2 separate regions of the Homo sapiens genome follow, and region 2 is linked to region 1. The links come from fine-mapping of genetic effects on gene expression. A gene starts in region 1. The other region holds a variant in brackets. All regions are shown on one strand. Distances are from middle to middle.

Evidence for each region. PIP is the estimated chance that this variant, and not a neighbour inherited with it, causes the effect.
Region 2: its variant is the best candidate, but not a certain one, in a credible set for the expression of CHUK-DT in thyroid (GTEx, PIP 0.56).

The regions. Positions count from the first base shown.
Region 1 is chr10:100,227,938-100,230,953 of GRCh38, reverse strand. It overlaps CHUK-DT (CHUK divergent transcript), which reads right to left and starts at 1,294. Exons shown (of 4, transcript NR_186419.1): 1 at 1,230-1,294. It overlaps CHUK (component of inhibitor of nuclear factor kappa B kinase complex), which reads left to right and starts at 1,358. Exons shown (of 21, transcript NM_001278.5): 1 at 1,358-1,526. The coding sequence starts at 1,422. RefSeq lists silencers at 49-311, 1,381-1,620 and an enhancer at 1,221-1,270.
Region 2 is chr10:100,277,879-100,280,378 of GRCh38, reverse strand. BLOC1S2 (biogenesis of lysosomal organelles complex 1 subunit 2) reads left to right here. Exons shown (of 5, transcript NM_173809.5): 4 at 151-255. Among named protein-coding and RNA genes, the nearest start is that of BLOC1S2, 7.6 kb to the left of the region's middle. The variant C/T (reference allele first, on the strand shown) is at 1,495.

The DNA of each region.
Region 1 (3,016 bases):
ATACTGTTACAACAATCTGTACCACAATTCTCTGTGCGGTCTGCCCAGCTCTAAATGACATGTCCTCAGAGGCATCATCATCTCCAAGTCCATGGAAACCATGCACTTACAGAAACCAGAACCTCCCATACCACATGTTACTAATGACCTACAACATCGACTTCGTCTGTATCATGCAGTGCTCAACATTCTGGTTGCAGCATCACATTTATCAATAATTTGATTCCATGCTGATTCCTTTACTTGGAGTATTGAGATCCCCCAGGTACAGTGAAGGTATGACCCTCTTAAATGGAAGACCAGGAGTTGTTTCCCCTATGCTATGGCAATCCGCCACCCGGAAGCACTTGCTGCACCAACAGCATTCCCAAAGCTTGCCTCTGCAGCCCTGTAGCACCCATTAGAAACACTTCTCACAATGAACTACTGTGCTGGCAAACCCATAACTGGACTGCCGGACAGCAAGCTCTGTGAGGCATCTAGGAAAAAAGCTCGCGAAATCCCGAGAAACACTCTTCACTCCGGAATAGCGTCACATTCTTGAGTCATTTGGGATGACAGGGGATATCCTGGAGCAGGTGTATTGGGAAGTCAGTGAACAAGAAGGCTAATTCATTAGTGGGCCTGCTAGCGTAGTATTTTAACGATTTCGCAGCCTTTAAATCATTGGTGGTCTTTAGCGTGCCGGATCAGCTGGTGGTGGAGTTGGAGGATAGATGGCAGGGATCTGAAGAAAGGTGAAGTGTAGATAGGAGTAGAGACAATATGAAGTTTAGAAAAGACTAATTGCTGGACGCGGTGGCTCATGTCTATAATCCCAGCACTCTGGGATGCCAAGGTGGGAGGACTACTTGAGACCAGGAGTTCGGGACCAGCCTGGGCAACGTAGCAAGACCATGTCTCTACAAAAAATAAAAAATTAGCCAAGCGAGGTGGTGCGCGCCTGCAATCCCAGCTACTCGGGAGGTGAGAAGATCGCTTAATTCCGGGAGGTCGAGGCTGCAGTGAGCCGTGATCGTGCCATTGCACTCCAGCCTGGGCAACGGAGCGAGACCCCATCTTAATTAAAAAGAAAAAAATACAGGAGAGACTGGGCTGCTTTGAAAAGTGGATTTGACGGGAATGTGGGGTTTGGAGAGATCTTATGTTTTCCAAGACTAGAAAAACATTGTGGTTCCGTTCAGCCCTCCCGGAAAATACGTAGGGGACTTAAAGAGCGGACCGAGTACCTGTTTGTTTCCCCATCCCTTAGCCGGCAGGGCTCTGGCAGCGCCCTGGGAGAACTTAGGGAAGGGCCTTCTCGCAGCGGTTACCGGAAGTGACGCATTCATTCTCGCGAGAACAAAGACGCGCGAGCATCGGCGGCCCGGAACCGGCCTTGGAACAACTGTGGAACCTGAGGCCGCTTGCCCTCCCGCCCCATGGAGCGGCCCCCGGGGCTGCGGCCGGGCGCGGGCGGGCCCTGGGAGATGCGGGAGCGGCTGGGCACCGGCGGCTTCGGGAACGTCTGTCTGTACCAGCATCGGGTGAGGCGGGGCGTGAGAGGGAGCGGCGGTGGGTTGGAGCGGCGGTGGGTTTGAGCGTCTGTGGAACACAGGGCTGACAGTGTGGGATAGATGGTTGGTGGGACCTTGGGCAGTATTTGGGGGCCAGTGGGCTTGTGTGTGTGTATTAGAGAGAAAGATACTATGCCTGTGTGTCCAAAGTTGTATTTGAGGTACTGGGCATAGATAGAGCTGTTGCGGGGAACTTGGGTATGACTGTCAGGCTGTGACCAGGTGTTTAGTGAGTGTGACAGTGCGTGTGTGTCTCTGTGAATGTGGAGTGTCAGGGTGTGTGAGGCAGATGCACGTCACAGTGTGTATGTAGGAGCACGAATGTGTGAGAAGAGGGCTGAAGGGGACTGCCTTTGGGAATGTGTGCGTCCGTGTGTGTGTGTGTGTGTGTGTGTGTGTGTGTGCGCGCGCGCGCGCGCGCTTGGAGGCCATATGATATCAGTGGGGACTGGAGTAGACAAGGAAGGCTTCATGATGGGTCCAGAGTTAAGCCTTTGGAAGCATGGATGGGCTTTGGAATTGGGGATGTATTCCAGGTCGGGACAGTATGAGGGTGAGTTGGTGCAGAGCATGGCTTCAAACGAAAGGCTATATTAGTAGATGGAGATGGGGGGCGCTCTAGTAGGTGGAGGACAGTTAACATCAGACTCAAGAATTTTACTTTGATTTAATAGAGAATGTTTAACCATTGTAGTAGCAGTTAAAAAATCATATTTGGGTCTTGTTTGTTTGTTTTTGTTTTTGAGACGGAGTCTCACTCTGTCGCCCAGGCTGGAATGCAGGGCGCGATCTCGGCTCACTGCAGCCTCCTCCTCCCGAGTTCAAGCGATTCTCCTGCCACAGCCTCCTGAGTAGCTGGGATTACAGGCGCCCGCCACCGTGCCTGGCTAATTTTTTTGTATTTTTAGTAGAGACGGGGTTTCACCATGTTGGCCAGGCTGGTCTCGAACTCCTGACCTCAGGCGATCCACCTGTCTCAGGCTCCCAAAGTGCAGAGATTATAGGCGTGAGCCACGGCACCAGGCCTGGGACATGTATTTTTTGATATACCGATAAAAGCTGTGAACCCTTTCCCCAGAAAAATGCACAGATGCACATTCACACAACCATGCATTGCCATTTGAGAGGTTCGTGCCTTCCTAAAGGACATTTTAGGTAAATAGACCCTGGACTAATAATTCCTGTAATATAGGCTTTGTTTTGTTGCCTGTAAAGTAAGTATAGTATAATAATTACATGCATCATGGATTTGAGAGTTAAATAAAATAGTAATGTGTGTAAAGCTAAATACGGTACCTGACCCATGAAAGCCCTCAACTGTTAGCACCTGCTGCTACTTTGTTGTTGTTGCTGCTATGATCATAATGCTCCTCATTAATTGGCCTTAAGGAAATGTCAAGATAAAAAGTGTTGTTCTAGGAAAATGGTTTTGTAAAGGATAAATTTGAGTGGAACAACAT
Region 2 (2,500 bases), 50 kb before region 1:
TCTGCCCTGCTAGTGCTCAGAATCATGTCACGCCACCTAATCTGTCTTAGCATAGCTGGAGAGACACTAGCATTATTACTTTTCCACTCTTTTCCTATATTCTTTGTTAATAAAGCCATATAAACATGAAGTTTTTCTTTGTTTTTAAAGATGCTGGACTGCAGCCTTATCTGGATCAGATCAATGTCATTGAAGAGCAGGTAGCAGCTCTTGAGCAGGCAGCTTACAAGTTGGATGCATATTCAAAAAAACTGGGTAACCGTTTTTACTTCTGTTTTGATGTAATAAAGACTGCTTCTTGCCAGCATATTCTTAGTAAACATAATAGTTAACATTTATGGTGTGCCTACAGTGATCTATTAATCTTCACAAAACCTTAGTAATTTATTATTATATTAATAAAAATAACATTTCCTGATTACTTAATGATATATCAGGCACTGTTCTTAGTGCTTTACATGTATTATGTTTGGTTTTTGTTTTTGGTTTGTTTTTTTTGAGACAAGTTTCACTCTTGTTGCCCAAGCTGGAGTGCAATGGTGCGATCTCGGCTCACCGCAACCTCCGCCTCCTGGGTCTGGGTTCAAGCGATTCTCCTGCCTCAGCCCCCCGAGTAGCTGGGATTACAGGCGCGCCACCACGCCTGGCTAATTTTGTATTTTTAGTAGAGACAGGGTCTCTCATGTTGGTCAGGCTGGTCTCGATCTCCCAACCTCAAGTGATCTGCCCACCTCGGCCTGGCCTGTATTATGTTTTTTATCTTCCCAATAATCTGTGAGGTAAGTACATGATTTTTTTTTGTACTTTTAGTAGAGACGAGGTTTCACCATGTTGGCCAGGCTGGTCTTGAACTCCTGACCTCGTGATCCGCCCGCCTCAGCCTCCCAAAGTGCTGGGATTATAGGTGTGAGCCACCACATCTGGTTCAAGTACATGATTTTTATCCTCATTTTGTAGGCAAGGAAACTGGTTTAAGGGGATAAGTAAGTTGCTTAAGGACACTAAGCCAGTACAGGGAAGAGCCATATTTCTAAGCAGGTCTGTTTGCTTACAAAGCTCAAGTTCTTATTTGTAGTTGAGAAAGCAGAAGCACCTTTAATAATGTAGATAAATATGTCTTAAATGAATAGTCAGTTGAGGATTTTCTTGAAAGATCACTTTTCCTTTGAGGAAGAAACTAGTATTTTTAGTACTAGTGGTTTGCTAACTGGCTCTGGCTCTTACATACATGGTTAAAAGTAAAGAATTTAGTGGGTTTTTTGTTGTTGTTGTTTTGTTTTTTTTTTCTATAAGAGATGAGGTCTTGCTGTGTCACCCAGGCTAGGGTGCAATGACGTGATCATAGCTCGCTGTAGCCTTGAACTCCTGGGCTCTAGTGATCCTCCTTCCTCAGCCTCCTGAGTACCTGGGACTACAGGTGTGCACCATCACATCCAGCTACTTTAAAAAAATTGTTTTTGAAACAAGGCCTTGCTGTGTTGCCCAGGCTGGTCT[C/T]GAACTCATGGCCTTAAGCAATCCTCCCACCTCAGCCTCTCAAGTAGCTGGAATCACAGGCCTTTTTTTTTTTTTATTGATCATTCTTGGGTGTTTCTCACAGAGGGGGATTTGGCAGGGTCATAGGACACTAGTGGAGGGAAGGTCAGCAGACAAACAAGTGAACAAAGGTCTCTGGTTTTCCTAGGCAGAGTGTTTGTGTCCCTGGGTACTTGAGATTAGGGAGTGGTAATGACTCTTAACGAGCATGCTGCCTTCAAGCATCTGTTTAACAAAGCACATCTTGCACCGCCCTTAATCCATTTAACCCTGAGTGGACACAGCACATGTTTCAGAGAGCACAGGGTTGGGGGTAAGGTCATAGATCAACAGGATCCCAAGGCAGAAGAATTTTTCTTAGTACAGAACAAAATGAAAAGTCTCCCATGTCTACTTCTTTCTACACAGACACGGCAACCATCCGATTTCTCAATCTTTTCCCCACCTTGCCCCCTTTTCTATTCCAGAAAACCGCCATCGTCATCATGGCCCATTCTCAATGAGCTGTTGGGTACACCTCCCAGACGGGGTGGTGGCCGGGCAGAGGGGCTCCTCACTTCCCAGTAGGGGCGGCCGGGCAGAGGCGCCCCTCAGCTCCTGGACCGGGTGGCTGGCCAGGCGGGGGGCTGACCCCCCCACCTCCCTCCCGGACGGGGCGGCTGGCCGGGTAGGGGGCTGACCCCCCCACCTCCCTCCCAGACGGGGTGGCTGGCCGGGAGGGGGCGCTGACCGCCCCCCCACCTCCCTCCCGGACGGAGCGGCTGGCCCGGCGGGGGGCTGAGCCCCCCACCTCCCTCCCGGACGGGGCGGCTGGCCGGGCGGGGGGCTGATTCCCTCACCTCCCTCCCGGACAGGGCGGCTGGCCGGGCAGAGGGGCTCCTCACTTCCCAGTAGGGGCGGCCGGGCAGAGGCGCCCCTCACCTCCCGGACGGGGCGGCTGGCCAGGCGGGGGGCTGACCCCCCCACC